Linked DNA regions of Homo sapiens. The protein of the gene in region 4 interacts with the protein of the main gene of each other region in a pairwise test. Each region holds a gene or a part of one and is shown on either strand. Other genes may lie near its edges.

Region 1 (7,035 bases), on a different chromosome or scaffold from region 4:
CAGGGCCAGCGGAGAGATACACAAGGGCAACAGGGTTGCTGCTACAGAGTGTTGGGTTCAAATCTCAGCTGCAAACTCTATAAGCTACTTCCGTTTCCTGAGTCTCAGTTTCTTCCTCTGGAAAACAGAAGTGCTACCCATCTGAAGGACTTTTATGGAGATTCGGTTAAATGGGCCCTTATGGGTACAGGAGTAGCCAACATCTGTCCTGGCAGGCTGGGAGGCAGCAGAGTGCTGTGTTTAAGGTCACGGGCACTGGAAGTGGAGAGGCCACCTCCAGGCATGCCTCTATCTGTGAAGCCCGGGGCAAATGACTTAACCTTACCGAGCCTCACATCTCCTCATCTTGGCAGCGGAGTGAACACCGCCGACCTCTTGAGATTGTCATAAAGATTAATTTGAGAACAAGATACTTAGTGTAGGGCGCAATGTAGCAGACACTTAGAATGGGGACGGGGGTCCCTACCTCGTTCATCTCCTCGATGTTGGTGATCATGACAATGATGGGCGTGTGCTCCTGCCACACCATGCGCCAGAAGTCGGCGACCGTGCTGACGATGGGTCCCTGAGTGGCGATGTACACCTTCTCCTCCCCACCATAGCCCTGCGGCCAGCCAAGTCCAGGCTGTCAGGGTCAGAGGCAGTGCTCCCAGGACCCCATCCCCACACTCAGGCTCTTCACAGGAGCTGGCAGGAGCCAGACTGGTGTAGGGACAAGGCTGGAGGATGGATCCCATCGACTCAGGCCTCCCCTTGAGCAAGAGGCCGTCAGGGTGGGAATACGTACCCGGATGTAGTTGGCATTGATGTAGGAACTCAGAGGGTCGTCAGGGTCTGGTGAGGTCAGACACACTCTGCTGTGAGGGTCTGGGGTGGTGGGAGACAAGTAAGGCTGGAAACTGGGCCCTCTGGTGCAGGACCCACTTGCTCTGGCCTATTCCAGCATACCCACACTTCTTCTGCGACATTAGCAGTTCTTCCTTCCCTTGCCCAGCAGCAAAACATTGACCCATTCATGGTTCATTTTGTAGGTGAGGACTCAGGATGAGGAGGAGGGTGGAGAGAGAGGGGGGTCCCCGGGTCTCTACCTCTGTCTCTATCCTTAGCCTGTGCCTCTTAAGTTGCCCTATACTCACTGCATCTTAGCTTCTGGAGAGGAGACAGCTAAGTCAACAATGGAATTACCTAGGGAAATTCCTGTACAGATCTTGTTCAGCAAGAGACAGCTAGCTTGAGTACACACTGTCATTGACTTGCTGTGTAGGCTTGTAAAACACATGGCCTTTCTAAGCCTTAGTTTTCCTATCTGTCAAATGGAGGCAAAGATGCCTACTTGCTTGGGCTGTTGGGAAGATGAATGAGAAAAGAGATGTGAAAGTTCTGTGTAAACTGTAAAGTGCTTTATAAATATAAAGGGCTGTTAAGATTCGGGAGTAGAAAGTTGACGGAGGCTATTAACATGAAAACGATAGTCTCCTCTATCTGGATTAAGACTGTGGGGTCTCAGCCTCATGTCCACATATGCAAAAAGGTTTTTTTTCCTTTCAATTTATTCACATGTCAAATCCCATAGTAAAAGGGTCTCTGTCACTCAGCTGGAGTGCAGTGGCACGATTATGGCTCGCTGCCGCCTCAAACTCCTGGGCCCAAGTGATCCTCCTGCTTCAACCCCCTGAGTAAGCAGGACTAAGCCATGAGCCACTGCACCTGGCTAAATTTATTTTTTTATTTTTATTTGTTTATTTTGGTAGAGATGAGGTCTTGCTATGTTGACTAGGCTGGTCTCCAATTCCTGGCTCAAGTGATCCTCCTACCTCGGCCTCTCAATGTGCTGGGGTTATAGGCATGAGCCACTGTGCCCAGCCCCCACTCTGCTCTTCTTCCTGGAGTAGATTTTGTTTTGTTCCAGCTACAGCCTCTCTGCATTGACTATTCTGTCAGCCTGCAGAGGCCAAGACTGAGGTTGTATGGGGTAAGGGGGAAGCTGGCTGGGGCCCCAGATTCCTGGGTTCTGGTTTAGTTTTGTCATCAGCTCACTTGTCCAGGCCTCAGTTTCTTTCCTATAATAGGGAGGACTGGACTAAAGGCACTTCCAGTGTGCACATTAGGAGGCTCTCACAGGCAGTATAGGGGAGTCATTAAGAGTCTACACCGCTGAGCCAGAGAGGCTAGGTTCAAATCCTGATTCTGACTTACTAGCAGTGTCAACATGGACAATTTACTTTATCTCCCTGTGCCTTATCTGTAATCTGGGGATGGTCATTCCACAATGACCTTGCTTATCTTGTAAAGGAGTTAACTTTAACAACTAGAGTCCTTATGCCAGTAACTAGGACCAACACGAAGTATCAGTTGCTGTTATTCCTGACATTATTACAAGTTCCACAAGTTAAAGGATAAAAAGAAGGATCCTAAACCCAGTAGGAGAAATTGGGGAGGTAAAGGGCACAAGCTTCGCCTCTTTAGCCCAACCCCAATGTCTAAGGTTTTGGCAGGTGATTTGGGGCAGTTCTTGTGAAGAGGGGGTGTAGAGGGTGGCAGGGATGGAGAGGAGACAGGGTAAACGGGAGGGGGGCTTTTGGGGGACCTGCAGCAGAGAGGGGCAGGAAGCTCTGTATGGGCCGTCTCCCTTCTCCTTGTCTGCAGGCAATGCTGTTCTGTCAGATTCACGTGCACAGTGCAGGGTAGGGAGTGGTGAGTGGTGAGGCTGGAGAGGAACCAGGCGACAAAGGGTCTTATAAACCAGGCTTAGAAAGCTGGATTTAGGCCGGGCGTGGTGGCTCAAGCCTGTAAGCCCAGCACTTTGGGAGGCTGAGGTGGGCGGATCACTTGAGGTCAGGAGTTGGAGAGCAGCCTGGCCAACACAGTCAAACCCTGTTCCTACTAAAAATACAAAAATTAGCCAGAAATTGCTTGAACCCAGGAGGCAGAGGTTGCAGTGAGCCGAGACTGTGCCACTGCACTCCAGCCTGGGCAGCAGAGTGAGACTCTGTCTCCCCCAAAAAAAAAAAAAAAGCTGGACTTAAACCTGAGGATTACGAGGGTGACAACAATGATGGCATTTAAGGAAGAGAATGACACAATTAGATTTGTTTTGCCTCATTTTGGTGACAATGGTAGAAGATGGAGAGGAGAGTGTGGAAGCCAGAAGACCAGTTAGAGGTTTACTGCAATGATCCAAGTAAGAAGTGTCAAGGATCACAGGGCTGTCCAGCCTGGCACGGCTCCAGGGGGCACTTATGTCAATGTAGTCTATGTAAATTGTGTCCCCTGGAATTGGACAACATGAAAGCCCTAACCTCAAAAACATCATTTGGCAGTGAGGCTGGAGAAGAGGATGTAGATTTGAGAGATATTATTCATTCATTCATTCAAATAGGTGCAGACCCCGGCATGGTGGCTCATGCCTATAATCCCAGCACTTTGGGAGGCCGAAGCAGGCGAGGACAGCTTGAGGCCAGAAGTTTGAGACCAGCCTGGTCAACAGAGCAAGACCTCCATCTCTACAAAAATTAAAACAGTCCAAATAGGTGCAGAATGTCTACCATGTGCCAGGCAGCACTGCTTTGATGCTTGGGACACGGCGGAGAAGGGGACAGAAATTGCTCCCAGCATCTTGTTCTCAATGCTGCCTGTGGGTTACTGTTCACTCTGACTGTAACTGTGCATGGACCTCTCTCCCCCGCTAGGCTGGAAGCTCCTTGTGCACAGAGTCTGTGTCCTATTTATGTCTAAATCCTCAGCCCCTGGGGCAGGAGCCGAGGAAATGTGTGCCCAGTGAATGAGAGAACAAACCTCAGCGCGTCCTGGATCTCAGAGGCAGCCTCTGCTCAGCCTCACCTGCCCTCTGCACCCCCCAACCCAGTCTCTGAGGGCACAGGCTCCATTCTTGCTGGACACAGACAAGATTCTTTATTGGGCTCGGGGGCCTGGAGGCTCAGGGCATGGTTGGAGGCAGCTCAAGCCTCTTGGAATGCAGCGGGGACTGCATCTGCACGGAATCCTAGTCTGCTCCCACCTTCCCCCAGTGGCCATTCTGAGCAGCCAGCAAAGTCCAAGGTTCTAGGATACTCGAGTCCCTCCCTCCAGGTAGGGCTGGGATCGGGGAGGGCAAGACGAGGGAAGAGGTGAGCATCCCTGAATAATGCATCCTGGCCTTAAATGGCTCTTTGTTTAACCGGAACTACCTAGAGACTGTGTAACCATAGCAACTACAAGTCGATATTTTAAAAGTTAAAAATAAGTCATGACATCTTACATGTTGTTGGAGATGCTGATGGCAAAACTGCTTTTTAAAAGCCTCGCTACTCCACAAACTGAATGGAGTAGGTTTATGGGGATTCACTTTCAACAAGTCAACGCCCAAGCTAGCCCTGGGGACTGGGGTCAGAACTTGGCGAGGGTGGCAGGCTCATCGAGGCTTGATAAAAGTTATCTGAAAATGATACCCCAGGGCTGAAAGAGGAGCATCAGGTCACCTGGTCTAACTGCCCCCAAAGGAGGAAAACCCCTTTCAGACCTTCTAGGGGACTGCTCGTGCCGCCTCACTTGAATATACTGAGTAATGGGGAGCTCACTCCCTGACAGAGACAACTCATTTGCCTGTGGGAGTGGATGTCCCTGTTAGAGGGCTTACAATTCGACCACACTCCACACAGTGTAGACAGAGAGCCTGACTCTGGGATCACAGAGGCCCAGGTCTGAAATTCAGCTCTGCACTTCCTAGCTGTGGGACTGCAGGTGAGCCACTTAACCTCTCTAAGCCTTAACTTCCTTTCCTTAAAATCTGCCCACTCTGAAAAGAGTTTCGGTTACCACAGTGTGGCTAGGAACTGCTGTCATTACCACCCTTTCTCTTTGGGTTTCTAGAGGGTCCAGCACAACATGTGGCCAGGCAGGGCAAAGGACCAGAGAGTGCTGTGCGAGGAAATGTACTCGCCTCTGGCCTCACCAGGGCAGCGCTTCCCTTCAGCCAGCAACCCCCAGCCCTCTGTCCCACCTCCTCCAGTCCTGTCACCCCTAGAGGCCCAGCTGAGGGTCCTCCTCAGGGTGAGGGGATCCCCAGGTGAAGCTGAGCCTGCCCCCATCCCTCTGGGACAGTGAGTACTCACTGGGAAGTATGGTTTTGTACCGGTTCTTCCGCACCAGCCCAGGGATGTCGTACTCTTTCGGATCCACAAAGTTCATGGGGATTTCCTGTGGAAGGAGGACACGGGGTGTGAGCAGCTATGGGCCCTCACAGATGTTTGAATCCAGGGGCTGCTGTGCCCCCAACTCCTAGCCCAGGGGCTGGCTTGAGTGCACGCATTCATTCAACAAACATTTACTATTAAGAGAGTTAGTGCTCACGACGCATTCAGAACAGTGCCTGGCACATGCTGAGTGTGTAATAAATATGATAATGACTATTGTTTATGGAGAGCCAGCCTGCCATATATAGACAGTCAATAAATAGCTGATGAATGAAGAAAAAGACAAAAAGTGACCTGGCCAATGGCTGCCTTCTTCCATGCTCCCTGGGCAGCATTCCTCCCTGGGCATCCCTATCTCGGGACCTAGGTTCGTGCTGCTTGCTCTGTGGTAACACACACCCCATCCTCATCTCATGTCCCGCCTCCTCTGAGAAGCCTTCCCTGATTCTCCAGAAGGAGAGAAGCCTCTTTCTGAGATCCCAGGAATATCTGCACCTCCCAACCACTGTCTGTGTCCAGAGCTCTGAGTCTGAACTTCTCTCCTGGCATGTGAGGGCTTCTTGAATCTGGCCTCTCTTTACTTCCAGTTAGGCCTGTTTCTCCCCTGTTGTTAATCTGCTGTTCTCAGTCCTGCCTCTGAGTCTGAGCTTGTGACGTTCTGCCTCCTGAGGGCGCTGGTCTCCCCTACCCCCATCTCTCCAAGTTGTTCCCACCCTTTAAAGTTCACCTCTGCCCGGGCGCGGTGGCTCACGCCTGTAATCTCAGCACTTTGGGAGGCCGAGGCAGGCGGATCACAAAGTCAGGAGTTTGAGACCACCCTGGCCAACATGTTGAAACCCCATCTCTAATAAGAATACAAAAATTAGCTGGACCTGGTGGCGGGCCCCTGTAATCCCAGCCACTAGGGAGGCTGAGGCAGGAGAATCGCTTGGAACTGGAAGGCGGAGGTTGCAGTGAGACAAGATCGCACCACTGCACTCCAGCCTGGGCAACAAGAGTGAAACCCTGTCTCAAAAAAAAAAAAAAAAAAAAAGTTCACCTATGAGTCTGTCTCCTCCTGACATCTTCCGGGATGACTCTCCATGCCTCTTGCCTCTGCATTTCCTTCCAGTCTGTCCACCAGCTTAGCCCCTGACTGCACCTAACTTCACACTGTTCATTGTTTTTGGACACACTAAGTATGGGCTTTGTAAAATGAGGATCATCACACTTTCCAGGATTGTGAAAATCAAAATAAAAATACAACACGTGCAAAACTGCCCCCAGAGTGGGTGCTCAGGCCACGCTCCTTCCTCAACAAAGACCCACCGGACAGGAAATGAGGTAGAGGATGTGATTCTTTCTCGAAGGGGAGATGATGGCAGTGGGAGCTCAGAGAAGGAGCTGAGGCTGGGGTGGTTAAAGAAGGCTTTCTAGAGGCATCTGGAGTGAGTGATGATGTGAGCAAAGGCACAGGAGGAGAAAGGCACGGACGAGACTGGCCCAGTTTGAAGTGGACAGTCCCTGCAGGGGTGGGGCATGGGGCATAAGGCTGGAAAAGGAGGCTGGGGCCACACGAGGTAAGGGGTGCTGATGGTGTATGCAGGTGGTACCAAGTTCTGGAGAACTTGGAGCAGCAGATCAGATGATGATGGAGGTCTTCTCACAGGGGAGAGCTACCCGGTCCAGACAGGCCCAGGGCGGAGGCCAAAGGAAGGGAGCTATGAGGGAGGAGGCACCTGCTTCTGTACCCCTGTGGCTTCTACCAGGAGGAACTCACCCCAGATACTCTTGGCCTCTTGCCTTTTCCTGCTCACAGAAGTGAGGAGTTACCTGTTTGGTGAATTTGGTTGAGGAATGGAGC
Region 2 (7,035 bases), on a different chromosome or scaffold from region 4:
TCCCGGGTTCATGCCATTCTCCTGCCTCAGCCTCCTGGAGACCCTCCATCTTTTTTTAAAAAAAAGTCATTTATAATAACATCTCAAAGTAGAAGTTGCTGGAAATTAATGTAACAACAATGTGTAAAACCTCTTAAAAATTATATATATATTAAAGGAGATCTAAATAAATGGAAACAGATCATTTCATCATTTAGAAGACTCAATAATAGAAATATTTGATGCTTTCCTGACCTTAAGGAAAAAAAAAAGAAAAAAAACATAATGGAAATATGCCAATATTCTCCAAATTATTTCACATGGTCAATCCAATGAAAATCTCAACATCTTTATTTTTTGTTTTTGTGGCACAAGACAATGCACAGAATATGCAAAGGTGTAGGCAAAGGCAATCCTATTGAACAAGATGAGAGGAGATGCTTTGTCAGATAACAATGATTATAAAGCTGCTGCTATTAAGACAGTGTTGTGTTAGCCCAAGGATAAACAGGCCAATGGAACAGAATAGAGTGTTCAGAAATAGATCCACACATATCAGTATGTATGATATAAGATAGGGCACATCAGTGAAGACTGAATGTCTCAATAAGTAGCTCTGGGATAACGGCATCCAGATGGAAAAGGTAAAGATCTTAAAAAAAAATAAGATCTAAGTAGACTGAAAACTTAAATGTGAAAGAAAAAAATTCTAAAACTGTTAGAAGATACTGTAAAAGAATATAACTTTAATATCAATAAATTAATAAAACTGACTACATTGATAAACTTCTGTTTATCAAAAGGCCCAACAGAATAAAAAGACCGTGAGAAAGGATATTTGCAAGACACCTAAAGGACAAAGTACTCAAGATCATAAAAAACAAGGAGTGCCTATAAACAGGTAAGAATAGGACAGACAGCCCATTTGAAGAGTATTGGTGAGATTGTGGGGAAATGGGCACTATCATATATTTATGTTAGAAGAATAAATTAGTTCCATACTTTTGAAGGCAATATGGCAATACATATCATTTAATTTAAAGTAGTCATTCGTTTTATTTTTAGGCAGAGTCTTGCTCTGTTGCCCAGGCTAGAGTGCAGTGGTGTGATCTCAGCTCACTGCAACCTCCGCCTCCCAGATTCAAGCTATTCTCTTACCTCAGCCTCCTGAGTAGCTGGGATTACAGGTGCCCGCTACCACGCCCTGCTAATTTTTTTTTTTTTTTGTATTTTTAGTGGAGACAGGGTTTCACCATGTTGGCCAGGCTGGTATCGCACTCCTAACTTCAGGTGATCCACCAGCCTCAGCCTCTCAAAGTGCTGGAATTACAGGTGTGAGCCACCACACCCAGCCAAAAGTATTCATTCTTTAATCTTCAAATTCCAGATCTTGGAATTTTTTTCTAAGGGAACAAATACCAAAGTGGGACAAATGCAAGAAATTAATGTTCACTGCCATATTGCTTGTAATAGTAAAAAAGTAGAGACTTAAAAGTCCATCAGAAGAAAGATTTTTTAAATACGTTAAGGCACATCTATGTAACAGAATACTATGCACTGTTATTAATGGATGGGTAAGTTTATATGTATAGACATAGACAAATAGGGATATGTTAGCCCAGTACAGTGGCACACCTGTAGTCCCAGTTACTTGGGAGGCTGAGGCAGGAGGATCACTTGAGCACAGGTGCTCAAGGCCAGCCTGGGCAATAGAGTGAGACCCATCTCTTAAAAAACAAAATAAAATTTAAAACAGGCATATATAACAATGGAAACCAATTATGAAAGAGATTATATCTATATGTATATATATATAATTGGATTATAGGCATCAGCCACCATGCCCAGCAACTTTCAATTTTTTTTTTTTTTTTGAAATGGAGTCTTGCTGTGTTGCCCAGGCTGGAGTGCAGTCGTGCGATCTCGGCTCACTGCAACCTCCACCTCCTGGGTTCAAGTGATTCTCCTGCCTCAGCCTCCTGAGTAGCTGGGACTACAGGTGCCCGCCACCATGCCCGGCTAATTTTTTGTATTTTAGTAGAGACGGGGTTTCACCATATTGGCCAGGCTGGTCTCAAACTCCTTACCTGGTGATCCGTCCGCCTTGGCCTCCCAAAGTGCTGAGATTACAGGCGTGAGCCACCGCGCCCAGCCAACTTTCAATTTTATTAGCTGAGTTTTTAGCACAACATTATTAACTTTTAAAAACAAACATGTTTGTTTTGAAATAGGCAAAACAACAAAAATATTTTGTTTTGGAAAGTAAATTTATATGATCCTGTAAATGTGTATGATATTTAGTAAAGAAAAATAAAGATGAGTTGCCATCTTGGAAGAGCAGGCTCACTGAACAGCAGTGCTTGTTTCCTCCTCCTTCAGAAGGGTCACAGTTGGTGGCTAGGTAACCCGGAGAAGGGTTTTCCTGGGGTCATCATAACTTGTTCTCATTCACATACCTTTATCCGTATTCTTAGCTCATTTTGCCTATTTAAAAGACAAAAGTCTTTTAAGAAAGTTTTCTTAATTTAATTCACATTTCCCTTAATGATTCCACCAAGACCCAAGCAGATGCAAAAATCTCTTTGTGAGTACACTTTTTCCTGCCTTAAGAAAAAATGTTACCTCTGATACTTGAAAAATTTCACAATTTACCTGTTTTGGTCATTCGAGGCTGCCCTGTCACAGAGTACTTCTACTTGTCAAGAACTTCTTTTCTGTTTCTACACTGTAATAAAATCTACTCTACATACAAATTTTTGCAAAACCTTAAAAACCTTTCTAAGGGCTGCAGAGCCAACTGGGGTATGCAAGCAGCAAGAATCTAATTTCTGAACTAAGAGAATAAGCCATATATTCTGAATGGAACTCCAGACTATAAAAAGGTAACAATGAACATGAATATTGGCCTCAAAGAGATACTATTTTATTTATCCCTAAGGAAAAAACATTCTATTTTTCTTGTTAAAGTATTGTTATGTAACAAGAATTACAGCACCTTTCAAAGAAGAGTTGAACCTTACTTTGTAATCAAATAAATACAGGTTAAAATGGCTAGATACCCTTTTTAATCTACCAAAATAGCAAAAGGTTTTTTGCCCCCTCACCTCACCAAAAATGGCACTTTCTTTTTCTTGTCTTTTTTTTTTTTGAGACAGAGTCTCACTTTGTCGCCCAGGCTAAAGTGTAGTGGTACGATCTCAGCTCACCGCAACCTCCGCCTCCCAGGTCCAAGCGATTCTCCTGCCTCAGCCTCCTGAGTAGCTGGGGTAACAGGTATGTGCCACCACACCCAGCTAATTTTTTTTTTCATATTTTTAGTAGAGACAGAGTTTCAACCATGTTGGGCACGCTGGTCTCGAACTCCTGACCTCAGGTGATCCGCCTGCCTCAGCCTCCCCAAGTGCTGAGATTACAGGCATGAGCCACCGTACCCAACTCATCTCATAATTCAAAAGGAATATTTATTCTGATTCATAGTGACTAATGATACATTCTAACATGTTAGACCATAAATGATTTCAAGAACATAAGAGTAACCTAACCTCTATGCCTGTTCTCCCTCTGCCCTTCAAAAAAATTGTATATTAAATTTGAGGGCCGGGTGCGGTGGCTCACGTCTGTAATCCCAGCACTTTGGGAAACCGAGGTGGGCGGATTACGAGGTCAAGAGATCAAGACCATCCTGGCCAACATGGTGAAACTCTGTCTCTACTAAAAATACAAAAAGTAGGCTTGGTGGCGGGCGCCTGTAATCTCAGCTACTTGGGAGGCTGAGGCCAGACAATCGCTTGAACCAGGGAGGCAGAGGTTGCAGTGAGCTGAGATTGCACCACTGCACTCCAGCCTGGCGACAGAGCGAAACTCCGTCTCAAAAAAGAAAAAAATAAATAAAAATAAAAATAAAAATTTTTGTATTTTGGTTTTCATCAGATACTCCAAATGCCAACAACAAAATAGGTGTCACGCACTCCTACATTCCAAGTTGAGGGGCTGGACCGGACACTTCCAATCTGAGATTCTACTGCGATGCTGCAGAGGCCATTGGAAAGAGGTCCTAGTGGGCTGTGGCATTTCCCACAAGTCAAGCCCAGAGAATGGCCTCAACAGAACCATTTGTAGAGCTTGACATGAGTCTCTGGAATTTGGGGAAGGGTTTAATATCTGATTCCAAAGAGTAAACACTGTTTGGTCTGCTTGCTGGGAGAGAAGGAAGCACCGCCACACTGATAACTGCATGCACTTGTAGATTATCCCACTGGAGGGATACGGAAGTTGTTTACTGTGAGCCATACAGATCCTGGAGAAGGCACTGAACATGAGTAGGTTTAAAAGGGACCCTGTACCACAGACCCACCTGAAGGACGGAAGTGATCTCAATAAAAGGGTAATTCTCCCTAGAACACAGACTCTGAGGGTGAAACTGCAAGTGGCATGCTGGAGGGGGTGTCTGAATGAACCATCAAGGAAACTGCAGAAGGGAGATCCCTGGTGATGAGTAGTGTCTCAAAAATCTACCACATCCCCTCTAGAGAGAAAGAGCCAATACTGGATATGCAATATACACAGTACCTAGCTGCCTGATCACAAGGCAGCAGCTGTTTATTGTTTTTTTTTAACTTTTATTTTTTTTGAGAAAGGGTCTTGCTCTGTCACCCAGGCTAGAGTGCAGTGGTGCGATCTCGGCTCACTGCAGCCTCTGCCTCCCGGATTCAAGCGATTCTCGTGCCTCAGCCTCCTGAGCAGCTGGGACTGCAGGCACGCACCACCATGCCTGGCTTTTTTAGTATTTTTTGTATTTTTAGTAGAGATGGGGTTTTGTCATGTTGGCCAGGATGGTTTCAAACTCCTGGTCTCAAATGATCTGCCCACCTTGGCCTCCTAAAGTGCTAGGATTATAGGTGTAAGCCACTGCACCTGGCCAGCAGCAGCTATTTAAGGCTGAGCCTTGTTCTCCCTAACTATTCCCACTATCCCAAGGGACCACAAGCAGCGATTATTAGTGAATAGAGGAGAAGGTGAAGTGCAAGAGAAGATATCAACTGCACCCTTCTCCCCACTGCAGGCTCCTGAGCCCCAGCTGGATGAAAACAGACATTTTGAATTAGAAGAAAGTTTATAGTTTTAACAATAGACTGGGCTAGAATAGATAATATCAGATGGTGACTGGAAATCCTACGATCTGTTTGAAATTCCATCCAGAGATACGGTGGAAGGTGGGGAACGATCTACAAAACAAATTTACTTGGAGAGGGGTGAGAAAGAAAGAATAAAGTTACTTTCTGCTCCTCTTCATAGAAAGTCTAGCTTGTGGCCAGGCACAGTGGCTCATGCCTATAATCCCAGCACTTTGGGAGGCGAAGGCAGGCGGATCACCTGAGAGGTCAGGAGTTCGGGACTAGCATGGCCAACATGGTGAAACCCCGTCTCTAATAAAAATACAAAAATTAGCCAGGCATGGTGGTGGGCTTCTGTAATCCTAGCTACTGGGGAAGCTGAGGCAGAATCGTTTTAACCCAGGACGTAGAGATTGCAGGGAGCCAAGATTGCGCCACTGCACTCCAGCCTGGGTGACAAAGCAAGATTCCCTCTCAAAAAAAAAAAAAAAAAAAGTCTAGCTTATTTGTTTAATAAACAAGAAAACAGAGTAAGATCATTCTATTTAACATACTTAGCAGTCTCTGACATAGCAGTACCCAATCAATATTATTTTTATTATTGAAACATAGTAATAGCAATACAGTATCTTATTTTCCACTTTTAGAATAGAAAAATAATAGAGGTGATAGTATATCTTGACCAGAAATTAATTCAATTAATTATTATCTTGACCAGAAATTAATTGGAAAGAAGCAATTTGGCATTTCCATAACCATGTTTTTCATTGTACCATACTTTCTGTATATGCTTATATAAAGTACAAACATAATTTTTTCTTGTATTCTCACATAGCATTAACCTATACTAGCATCTCCTGAGTGGGGTCTGGTTTGGGGGCTTTTAACTAGCATTGCATCCTAGAATTATCTGTGGAGCTTTTAAAAAGAGCACATTCCTATCTCTGAGGCAAGACTTACCCAATCAGAATCTCTGGGTCTGGAAACCAGACGTGTGTATTTTGAAAAAGCTCCTCAGGTGGCTCAATTGTAAAACGAGGATTGTGAGTCATCGGCCTAGGTCAGTCACTTAGCTCTTTTGTAAACTAGAAGCCAGGCTCCTATTCCTAGTCTTTTGATCTAGTTGGGGCTACCCAGAAAATTTGTTAAAAAATAACAAAAGTCATCTGAATTAGATAACTAAGTAATTGGTTAACCAACATAAACAAAATGAATGCATTCATCAAACATTTACTGGGTACTGCCTCTGCTCCAGGCTCAGTATCAGGCATGGGGATTCCGCTCTACCCTGAGAATATTCTCAGCCTACAAGTGTGTGAACTATTTAAATGTGGCTGCTCTCAATTTATATTAGCTACTAAGAGAAAGGCAACAAACACCTACTTCAAAGACTTACTTGCACAATACTATGGCATACAAGGACTCTCCCACATGAATCAGCCAGGCAAGCCAATACCTGAAACCAAAAAAAAGGTTAATCTTTTTTAAGGTGATAGTTATCTGCTGATGAAATCTAACACAGCAATCTCAAAAAGAAAAGTGCCTTAAGGTGAACCGACACTACTCTTAGATACCAAAAGGCAGCTGCAGGCCTTCCAGGTTTCCCATGAGACCAGAGCTCCAGTGTCCACAGTCCACTTGTGCAGCTCTCCTTACCCATTGCACAGGAGGGTGTGATGGTGGTCCACCAAGTACTGAGTGAAGGGGCCCAGGGGCCCAAGGTTCTGATAAGGGATACTCTGAGGCCAGAAGACAACCCACTGAAAGAGAAGCAGAGACACAGAATACCTATTAGGTCACTTAAAACCTGTTTTTTGTTTTTGTTTTTGAGAAAGGCTGTGAAACAGTAAAAAAATTACCACAGACCGAAGAAACTCTGAACAGTCATTTGGGTCTCCATTCTTGGCTTCTATTTTCTTTCTTTCTTTTTTTTTTGACAGGG
Region 3 (3,587 bases), on a different chromosome or scaffold from region 4:
TAAACATCTTCCCATCAATGTGTATGTGGCTTGTTTCCAACCTTTTGCTAAAAGTGGACATGAGGCAGTCAGCATGTGTGCACAGTGACCATTCCTTGCATGTATAAGCATCTCTGCAGGACAAATTCCCTGAAGTGCAATTGCTGAATCAAAGAACATTTGCACTGTACAATTTTAATTATCATTGCAAATCCTTTCCTATTAGCTGAGTTTGATGGCACAAGTTTTCCCATAACTTTACCAATACTACTAATGTATTATTAAATTTTAAAATCTATGCCAATCTTCATATTTCTTCTTTTGATGGACATTGTTTTAAATAAGAGTGAGGTTGAACATCTCTTTCACGTGTTGATGTTTGTTTCTTTTTATGGAAGTGGTTCCTTTATTTTTTTGCTCTTTTTCTTTGGATTCTTTAAAAATATTTACTTTTAAGAATGTGTATTAAAATTGATTTTTTTTTTTTGAGATGCAGTCTCTATCGCCCAGGTTGGAGTGCAGTGGTGTGATCTCAGCTCACTGCAACCTCCACCTCCCAGGTTCAAGCCATTCTCTTGCCTCAGCCTCCCGAGTAGCTGGGACTACAGGTGCCCTCCACCATACCCCGCTAAGTTTTTGTATTTTTAGTAGAGACGGGGTTTCACTGTGTTAGCTAGGATGGTCTCGATCTCCTCATGTTGTGATCCACCTGCCTTAGCCTCCCAAAGTGCTGGGATTACAGGCATGAGCCACCACGCCCAGCCAAAATTGATTTTTTTTTTTCTGTCTTGGGTTGCAAAATATTGCCTTTCAACTTTTGGAGGGTACTTTTCATTACTATCCTTTATCTGCAAAAACTACCATCTTGAGCATATTCAACTTCTGTGAAGTTAAATTGATCCACTTTTTTCTTTTACAACTGTAAAATCCATCAGTTTCCCAGGATTTTGGTTTGAGCAGGGGCTGTCTTTATCAAATGTGAAGTTTTCACTTATTCTCATGTCTTTTTCTGAGCTCTCCCTCATGTTCCATGGGTCTGTTTTCTCATTTTTGCCACAGTGCCACACTATTTTTATTCTTGCGACTTTGTAACAATTCTTGTTAAAAGTTTATTTTATTGCGGGGAGAAAAGGTCTCACTTGCAAACAGAGAGAAGCTGGAGAATTGTGTCTTTGCTCCCTTGATAAGGATTGGGGCTGGGGTGTTTCCTTAGGGACGACCTGGCCCATTTGCCCTTCCTGACCATGTGCATGAAGGAGAGCCTGCGGCTGCATCCCCCAGTCCCGGTCATCTCCCGCCATGTCACCCAGGACATTGTGCTCCCAGACGGCCGGGTCATCCCCAAAGGTGCTCACAGCCTCACGGGGAGGAGTCTCCTGGGTAGGAAGAGGGGCCCCTCAGTGAAGGAGGCCTTCTCCTGACTGCTCCCTTCTCTCCCACAGGCATTATCTGCCTCATCAGTGTTTTCGGAACCCATCACAACCCAGCTGTGTGGCCGGACCCTGAGGTGCGGGGCCCCTCTCTCTGTTTTTGTCCATTCCAAGGCTCCTAGAGGAGGGGGCAGGGTTTTGATCAGGAGTATCCAACATCACCTCCCTCAAAGACACACACAACTGTCTGTCTCTCCAAGGCTGGCGGACTGGGAGACCCCACCCAACAACCCTTCTTGGTCTCACCTCCAGGTCTACGACCCCTTTCGCTTTGACCCAGAGAACATCAAGGAGAGGTCACCTCTGGCTTTTATTCCCTTCTCGGCAGGGCCCAGGTAAGGGCGGCCTGTGTCTGAGGTGGGAACGGGTTGATGGGTGCAGGGGTCTGGGCATGACAGTGGGGAAAAGGGGGACATTGTAGATGGTCCAAGTTCCAGCTCTCTTTCCCTCACCTCCTCTGGAGTTTATAGGAAAAGGTCCATAGAGTACGGTTGGGTTGGTCCTAGAAGGGTCTGTGGTGTGCTCAGAGCCCCCTCCTACCCCACCTTGGTCTAGGCTGGGGGTTGGAGCTCGGCTAGGCTTGCAGGATATGCAAGCCCGCATGGGGATCCAGGCACGGATACCCCCTTCTCTATTCCTCAAACTGCTCTAGGTGGGGTTGGGTGTCCCAGGCCAGGTTACCGGCTTGATGGGGCCAGGATGGGGCTCCTGGGTGCAGTCAGAGTTCCCACCTCCCTCCCCTAGGAACTGCATCGGGCAGACGTTCGCGATGGCGGAGATGAAGGTGGTCCTGGCGCTCACGCTGCTGCGCTTCCGCGTCCTGCCTGACCACACCGAGCCCCGCAGGAAGCCGGAGCTGGTCCTGCGCGCAGAGGGCGGACTTTGGCTGCGGGTGGAGCCCCTGAGCTGAGTTCTGCAGAGACCCACTCTGACCCCACTAAAATGACCCCTGATTCATCAAAAGTGAAGCCTAGAATTACCCTAAGACCCTGTTCCACAGTCCTGTATTCCATCCTAGATATCTACTCAAAATAATTGAGACAAGTGTTCAAACAGAAAGACGCTTGTGCGTGAATGTTCATGGCGGCCCTATTCACAGTAGCCAAACGATGAAAACAACCCCAAGCTATATATTACCAGATGAAAGGATAAACAAAATGTGGTCCATCCATACAATGGAGTATTACACAGCCATAAAAAGGAATGAAGCAGTGATCCCTACTACACTGTGGATGAACCTTGAATGCATGATACTGAATGAAAGACGTCAGATGCAAAAGGTCACATAGTGTACTGTCCTTTTATACGAAATTTCCAGAACAGGCCAATCTGAAGAGATGCATAGCGGATTGGTGGCTTTCAGCAGCTGTGGGGAGGTGGGACTGAGGAGCGACTGCTAATCAGTATGGGGTTTCCTCCCGGGATGGTGAAAATGTTCCGGACCTAGATAGTGACGAAGGTAGCACGACACTGTGAGTGCACTAAATGCTATTGAATTGGACACTTTGAAATGGTGAATTTCGTGGTATGTGAATTCTACCTCAATCAAAAAAATTTGCTATTTTATCTCACATACATTTTTTTTCTGTCCAGGTTGTTCATATAATAATATGCTGTGAGCATCTTTCCATGACATTAAATCATCTTAGGAAACATTATTTTGTGGTCCTCAAAATGTGTGTGTTAAGTGTTCAAATCAGTCTTAATTTAAAAAAAGACATCATATTAGAAAATAAAAGTGTTTTGTCTCACTTTGTAAGAATTAGCTTCATATACATTGACTATTAGTAACAAATTGAGTTATTCTTCATCAAGTAACTTTTGGGGTAGAGATCTCATTTTCACAGCAATAGATGCACAAATATTCATGTAAGATACAGGTGTGGTTAGACACCTTTCATAGAACAGTTATGATCTGGAAATTCCACAGACACTGAATATTTTGGTCGTATTAACAGAAGTAGATCACTGAGAAGGGAGAAGGTGACTTTTCAGCTCCCCCAGGTAAATGCTGATTTCATCCTCACATCGATCTTACAGATTGTAGATGAACTCACTTGTTCAAGGTCACTCAGTGAAGGGTGGAGTCAGGGGTGAATCTGAGCAGTTGGCATCAGAGGTCATGCCTTATCGTATCAAGGACATGATTTTCAAAGCGAGTCTCAGCCCTAGGCACAT
Region 4 (7,213 bases):
GGGCGTGGTGGTGTACGCCTGTAATCCCAGCTACTCGAGAGGCTGAGGCAGGAAAATTGCTTGAACCGAGAAGTCAGAGGTTGTAGTGCAACCTCTGCACCACTGCACTCCAGCCTAGGTGACAGACACTCTGTCTCAAAAAAATAAAAAATAAAAAAAGTGGTTTGTGTAGTATCATCATATTTAGTGCCTTTCTCGGTGAATGATATAACTTGGACGTTCTTCCATGTCAGATAGCTCTACCTCATTCTTTCTGGTGACTTCATAGTGTGCCAGCATGAGTCTATGCCACAATTTACTTAGCATAGCTCCTAGTGCTGGGCATTGAGGTTGGTGACCACTTTTCACCGTTACAATTAATCAGCAATGAAAACCCTTGGACGTTCTGTTCCTGAGCACATGTGTGAGTTGTTCTGCATGATGATCTATTTCTATAAGCTGATTTTCCAGCCTCACTTTCATTGATGTGCCTGGAAAGTCAGTAGCATGACAGACTGGGGTCTTGGTCACTAACCAGGGACAGTCGAATATTTTAAAACTGTCGTTATTTACCCATTCAGCCAGAAAGAATAAAAATGTAATGCCACGGGAATTCTCAGAACAGCATCCTCTCCTCTTTGAATTCAGGCTTTCAGAACTAGACAGGCTAATGCTCCCACAACTCATGTTCAGGCCACACTGGGTACTTTGTCACATACTAGTTCACCTGATCCCCGAGTTGGTCCTGGAAAATAGGTATTATTAGCATAGAAATGCTAATAATTTTTTTTTGACACATGAGGAAACTGAGGCTCAGAGAGGACAAGACATCTGCCCAGGGTCACACAACTCACAAATAGCAGAGGATTCAGAAACCAAAGACAAAGGTGATGGAATCCTGCCTTCTTTCTAAATCCGTGATGTAGGCTAGATCATGGTGCCTCTTCAGAAGTTTACAGTGGACAGTTAGCCAAAAAAGCAGGTGAAGTGAACATCTGCCTAGGTGACTGAGTTTGCAGGATGTATTAGTTTCCTCCCGCTGCTGTGACAAATTGACCCAAACTTCATGGCTTAGAACAACACAGTGAACTATCTTCTTACAGTTCTGGAGGTCAGATGTCCAAAACGGATCTGCAAATGCCTTCCCACCTTCAAATCATAAGGCAGACCCAAACTTGCCTTTTTGTGGATGCCAAGAGCTCCTTCTGGATGCTCTGGCTGACACTCCATTCCTTTCCTTTTCTAGCTCCTAGAGGCTGCCCACATTCCTTGGCTACTGACCCTTGTCCAGCAACTGTATCATTCTGATCTCTACTTCTATCACCACATCTCCCTCTCTAACTCTGACCCTCCCGCTTCCCTCTTGTAGGAACCCTTTTGACAACATTGGACCCACCAGGAAAATCAAGGATAACCTCCCCGTCCCAACATCTTTAACTTGATCCCATCTGCAAAGTCCCTTTTGCCACGTAAAGTAACCAGTTCTGGGGATCAGGTTGTGAACATCTTTGGGCAGCCATTATTCTGCCTATCACAGAAGGGGGTTCCTAGCTTAGTGATTTAGAGCAAGGGCCCTGCAAAGACCCCAGATTCAAATACTTTGTCACTTGCTAGCAGATCCAGGTACCTAACTTCTCTGAGTCTTAACAGCCTCATCTGAAAAACTAGAATAATAGAATCTTCCTTCTAGGGCTGTTTTGAAAACCAAAGAACACAATGTATGCAGTGCACGTGAAACACAGGGTTCAATAAATGGTAGGGAAGATTCAGAGAAACTAACCATGTAGAGGGAGAGGGCTGTGGAGGAGAGGAGGATAAGGAGAGGCATGCTTCCTTTGGTAGCTTCTTCAGTTTTGCCTGGGCCTCAGCTTTGCCTGAGAATTTCGTCAGTCTCTCCCCAGATCAGCCAGGGTGAGCCTGCTTAAATGGAACACTCTGAAGATGATATCCTGTGATAAACAAGACCTGCCCAGTTGAGTCTGCAGCAGAGTGGGGCGGGTCTGGGATGACCCTGGCATGGAAAAGTACAGCAGCTCTTTGTCTTCAGATTAGGAGCTGGGACAGCTGTTCTGACATGATCACCCCCCGCCCCCACCCCAGGCCTCTCCAAAGTCCATCTTGCAGAGTCAAATGAAAACCAGATTCCTGGTCTTATCTGAGAGCTACGTGACTGTTTCCTGTCACTCCTTTGGAGCCTGGGAAGGTCCCCACATGCATTGTCTAAACTTTGGGATGAATACGCACAGCTCTTAAATGGGAGCATATTATTATAGGTACCTGCCTACACAAAGGGTCCTCCCTATTCACTAAAATCATGGGTTATTATTTAGGGCTTTCATTCATCCAACAAATGTTTATTCCGCATTTGCAGGTGGCCAGGCAAGGTGAACATTCTCTCAGGGTGGAGAGTATGTGCAGACAGGAGGAATTATGCTATGGGAGGGAGAGCAGAAGCTCTGGAGTGGATCATCTTGGGTCTAGATCCTGATACTTCCCAGCTGTGTTTTCACTGGGCAAAATGACCTCACCTCCTTAAGCCTCAGCCTTCTCTTCTATAAAGTGGGCATAACAAATAACCGCCTCCTAGGTTATGAGGATTAAATGAGATGGTTCAGGGGATGTGGGTGGTAACCCCGCCCCTGGTTCATAGCAAGGATGTGAGGAATAGCAGTTGCTGTCATAGACATGGAGACTGTTTCCCCAAATGCCTTCCCACCCCCAAATCATAAGGCAGACCCAAACTTGCCTTTTTGTGGACGCCAAGGTTCTGTCGAGCTGTTAGGGTGCAAGTTAAGAAGCCAGAATGGCGGGCTGAGGGGAGAAATGCCCGCATGTTACAACTCTGCAGGTGTACACACGTGGACACCATATGTACCCATGAATTCCGCCTTTGGAAGTGAACTTGATTGCAGCCTATTTTCGTCTGGAGGCGGTGGATTCCCGGTAGGAGGCGCCTTCAGTCCTCGGCTCGATCCTGTGACGCCAGCCAGCTGCCTATCGGCTTCTCAGTGTTTGAACTTCAAAGGGCTGGACGCTCACCCAAGAAGGGGACCCCGGCCTGACCTCTCTCGGAATTCAAAAAAATCTAAGGCTCAGAGAGGGAATGGGAGCTGGCTCTTCCCTCTGTGTTTAGCATCCACGTTTTTTGGCGGTCTGGCTGAAACCAGCCCACCCTAGTTCGGGCGCCAGAGCAACGCAGTTCCGAGGGCAGATCTCCAAGGGGCGGAGGCAGAGCCGCGGGTGAGAGGCTTCCGCGCCGACTTCGGGTTTGCACTCCCCGGAGCCAGAACTCCGTGGCGGCTCCGGGCCTCCGTGGATCCGAGCAGAGACTGGCTGCCCGCCTGCCACTCGCAGGCTGGGAAAACGCCAGCCGGTGCCTCGCCGGGAAAGTTCTCGGCAAAGCTGGGGATGAGCCCTCAGCAGGGCAGGCTCCCGGTGCAGCGCGCCCCCATCCATTGCCCGCGCGCAAGAACCCGGAATGGGCCCCACCTGGGCCGGGACTCGGGCGTGCGATCCCGAGGGCGCCCTGGGGACCACGCATCGGGTGGGGACCCTGGCCGAGGGCGTGAGCTGACTCAGTTTTTAAAAACTCGCTTCCTCCTTCCCTACTTGTGCCGGTCACTCACCTCGCTGGGAACCAGCCCAGGGCAGAAGGGGGAGAGGGAGGCGGTGGCCTCCCCAGGAAGGAGGAGAGGTGAGTATCCCGCCAGGTAAAGGCGGGGCGGCTGGCGGAGCTGTGCCTCGGCGTCTGCGCCTGGTGTGGGAGGAAAGCGGGTCTCCCAGCTCCACTTAAACCCCTAAAACCTGGGACTTCTAGCTTGAGACATTCCCCGACCACCACCCGTCACACACACGCGCGTGCGCGCACACACGCATGCACACCGATTCTCTGGGCCCTAGGGAGGAGGGGGGATCAGGGCTCTATTTTCTCCCGACCCCCTCTTATCCAACTCGGCTGGCAAGGGTTGGGGAGAACTTAGGCCCAGCCCCCGGCACACGCTCAGCGCGCTCCAGCGGCATACGCTGGGGAGTGGGTGCCCGCCTCGCTCAGCTGCGATCCCTCGCCTCGGGCCCGGGGGTGGTGCCGAGGGCCGGGAGGGAGGGTCGGCCGGTGGGCGGTGCTTCTCCGGGCTGGAGGCCGCTCCTGGCCGGCACCGCCCTCCGCCTCCCGCGGTCCCTCCCTCCCGCACGCCGGCGCTCCCAGGCCGCGCTTCCTGCGTCCCCAACCCGGTCCCTGAGAGGGCAGTGCGCCCTCTCCACCACTGCGTTCCCTCGGCTAAGAATCCCCCGAACCCCAGCCCCGCGATCGCGGCGCCCACCGAGGAGGCCGCCCGGGTGGGGCGCGGGGGTCGCGAAGCCCGCAGTCCCGGACCGCCCAGCCGAGACGGAGCCGGACCCGCCGCCTCCCGGGTGAGTCTCAGCCGCCGCGCCTTGCGCCCGCTGCTTCCCGCGGCGCGCTGTCGGTTCCCCACAGGGCCGTGTAAGGGGGCCGAGGCCCGTTTGGGTCTCCTGTCCGTCCGTCTGTCCGCCGAGCGCTTCCCGCCTGGGGTCGACCACCGGGAGGACTCCGCACCCCGCACCCTCTGCGGCCGCGCCCCGCCGGCGCGGGACGCTCCCGCCTCCCGGGCACCGCGCCTGGCCAGCTGGCCTCGGCTGGGGAAGGCAGCTGGCCTTGGGGGCCCCCTGTTGGCGGGAACAGGTGCTATCCGCCCGGCGGGCTTCGAACCCTTGGCTTCGCCAGAAGCGCTTTCAGCGCGTGGTTAGGAGCAGAACTTCCCAGTAGGTCCCAGGAAACCACCTTGGCGCTTTGCTCGCGCATCCCTTACTGTATGGAAGTCGGGGCCTTTTAGGGATTTAGATTCGTGTGTGTGTATGTGTGTGTGTCGCTCTACAAGCAAACACGGGGGTAAAGAATCGGGCATGAGCAAAGTGGATTGAAACTCGAGTCCTTCCCTGAGCGCGTCGGTTTCTTCATCTGTGAAACTGACATGACAACGTCCCAGGGTGCGGCGGGGCATTCATGCCCAGCACCCAGCAAGCACTCAGCGGTAAGTTACGTTACCGGGCCTAGGGGAGAGCAGAGTACAAATCAGATCTCAAATCAGCGCACAAACGGGAGGCGCTTGGCCCGGCGCGCCTGGTCTGCATTACAGGATAATGGTCTCTTTCCCAACCAGCGGTGGGGGCGAGAGACCTGGCCCCTCCCCCACGGTTTCCCCAGGGAGCAGCCCGTGGGGTGTCCTGCGCAGCGCTCCGAGGTGCCTGTGACGGTGCATGGGACTGCGGGTCCTTCCCAACAGCAGGGGAGGTCTGGCTGCTGGGAACCCGGGCGCTGCCGGAGTGGGGTGGGCGGGGACGAGGTGGGCGGGGCAGGGACCCGAACCGGGAGGTAAGTCAGCGGGTGGAAGGCTTTCCCCTCTAGGACCGGCCGGCTTCTGGCTTTCCTTTTGAATGGGTTACCCGGAGAACAGCTTGTCTAGGGAACTGTTGGCCCTGGGACCGTGAACAGCTTTCACACCCCGGAAACCTGTCACAAGAGGATCCTGACCTATTGGGACAGAGCCCCTGCCCCTCCAAATATCTCACTCCACCAATTGAGAGGTACCCCCAGACTGGGAGAAAAGGCCAAAGAAAGAGAGAGGAGGCTAGTGGTGAACCTGCTCCTCACGGCTTCGGAGCTGACAGCTCTCTGATGGGGTGTCTGGGGCCTGCCCCAGTGACCCAGAGCCCAGAAGCCTCAGGGAGCCCCCAGCCTAGTGAGGGAGTCAGGGATACTCATGAAAAGTGTTGCAGAATTGGCGATACAGTCAGGCCACACCACTTGCTGGCTGTGTGACCTGACCTCTCTGAGCCTCAGCTTCTTCATCTGTAAAATGGGATGATGATCTCCAAGGGCGAGGTGGGGTATTTATGCCTAGCACATGAAGTATTCTATAGTAAGTTATGTCACAGGGCTTAGACGAGAACAGAAGAAAGGAAATAACTCAGGAGGTCCTGCTAAGAAAAGAGTATTAGAATATTCATCAGGGAACTGGAGTCCCCCCAGGGAACAGGGGAGGAAGGGTGTCTGGGCAGATCGAACAGCACAGGCAAAGGCACAGCGACAGGAGAGTGCCTGGGGTGTGCTGGGCTGGGGAAGGTGCTCAGGCAGTGGAGGGTGTGGAAAAGTAAAGGGAATGGAAGGTCCGGAGTGAGCTGGACTGGACAGGTGGGGGCTTTCTTGGAATCATTCAACATATGTTGGCCGAGCACCTTCTGTGGGCCAGGCGCTGTTCTAGGTGCTCAACAAAGATGAACAACATGGAGAAAGACGTCCCTTTCATTCAAGTTCTCTAAGCAGGGAAGTCGTCTGATCCCATCCATATGTTAAGAAGATAATCCTGGCTGCCTGGAAGTTGGCGAGGATCCTAGAGAAGACTCCTAGGAGAGAGAGGCTGGCCTGTGGGTTGGTGGGGGCAGTGGGAATGAATGGGGGAGCTGGAGGAGAGGCCCATACAGGAAGCAGAGAGTAATGTGTGGCCTTCACTCATGACTGTTGGTCAAGGGTAAGATTCTGGGGTTCTACATGAGGCCCAAACTGCCAGCCTGGTCCCCTGCCAGAGAGAAGTAGTGAGTGAGTGTCTGGGGTATTGGCAGGACCCAAGCCCCTCCAGCTGCGACTCTCCGGCTCGCTGGCTCCAGATGTCACGAGGCCTGGGAGTTTCTCTGTCTGCGTGAGGGATGGGAAAGCTGGAGGCAGAGGCCAGCTGGAGCTTCTGGGGCTCCCGTTTTAATAGGTTGTGTTTCTGGTCAACGTTCCTCCCTCCCTCTGCAGGCCTGGCTGTAAACCCCTCAGGCTTCTTGGGCTGGAAGAGGCCAGAGTGTGAGGAGCTTTAGTGTGGATTCTCTTCCCCCAGCCCCAAATTAAGGTGGGAGTCATGCAAAAGAGAAGCATTGTCTCCCTCGGTGCTGGGAAAGTTTCAGAAGCTCAGGTGTCTTCTGACTTGGGATGTGGTATGGGGGCTGCTGACTTTTGCTTTCACTTTTGTTTCTGCTCTGAAGCTGGGAGGAATCCTCCTCTTGCAGCGAAAGCTGTGAGAATATCCTTCTCCATGCTTCAAGTCTCCCTTTGCTTGGAGGGAAAAGGAAGGTCCTAGAATGTCTCAGGTGGAGGGGACCTTCAGGTCATCAGAGACATCATTCTCATTTGACAAACAAAACTCAGAGAGGGGATGGGACTTACCCAAGGACACAC

Evidence for each region.
Region 1: the proteins of TMEM51 (region 4) and PTPN5 interact in binary tests that used the Homo sapiens proteins (3 or more experiments, as listed by UniProt).
Region 2: the proteins of TMEM51 (region 4) and TMEM254 interact in binary tests that used the Homo sapiens proteins (3 or more experiments, as listed by UniProt).
Region 3: the proteins of TMEM51 (region 4) and CYP4F2 interact in binary tests that used the Homo sapiens proteins (3 or more experiments, as listed by UniProt).

The regions. Positions count from the first base shown.
Region 1 is NC_000011.10:18,732,769-18,739,803, forward strand, and holds part of PTPN5 (tyrosine-protein phosphatase non-receptor type 5), read right to left. Parts: intron 5,197-7,035; coding exon 5,112-5,196; intron 868-5,111; coding exon 788-867; intron 605-787; coding exon 467-604; intron 1-466. UniProt on the Homo sapiens protein: May regulate the activity of several effector molecules involved in synaptic plasticity and neuronal cell survival, including MAPKs, Src family kinases and NMDA receptors.
Region 2 is NC_000010.11:80,081,659-80,088,693, reverse strand, and holds part of TMEM254 (transmembrane protein 254), read right to left. Parts: coding exon of another isoform or gene 6,953-7,035; intron 6,854-6,952; coding exon 6,750-6,853; intron 6,550-6,749; coding exon 6,490-6,549; coding exon of another isoform or gene 6,486-6,489; exon of another isoform or gene 6,477-6,485; intron 2,464-6,476; coding exon of another isoform or gene 2,424-2,463; exon of another isoform or gene 2,228-2,423; intron 1-2,227.
Region 3 is NC_000019.10:15,877,503-15,881,089, reverse strand, and holds the end of CYP4F2 (cytochrome P450 4F2 precursor), read left to right. Parts: intron 1-1,192; coding exon 1,193-1,326; intron 1,327-1,421; coding exon 1,422-1,486; intron 1,487-1,661; coding exon 1,662-1,744; intron 1,745-2,153; coding exon 2,154-2,319; 3' UTR 2,320-3,067; downstream 3,068-3,587. UniProt on the Homo sapiens protein: A cytochrome P450 monooxygenase involved in the metabolism of various endogenous substrates, including fatty acids, eicosanoids and vitamins.
Region 4 is NC_000001.11:15,149,566-15,156,778, forward strand, and holds the start of TMEM51 (transmembrane protein 51), read left to right. Parts: upstream 1-4,181; 5' UTR 4,182-4,389; intron 4,390-7,213.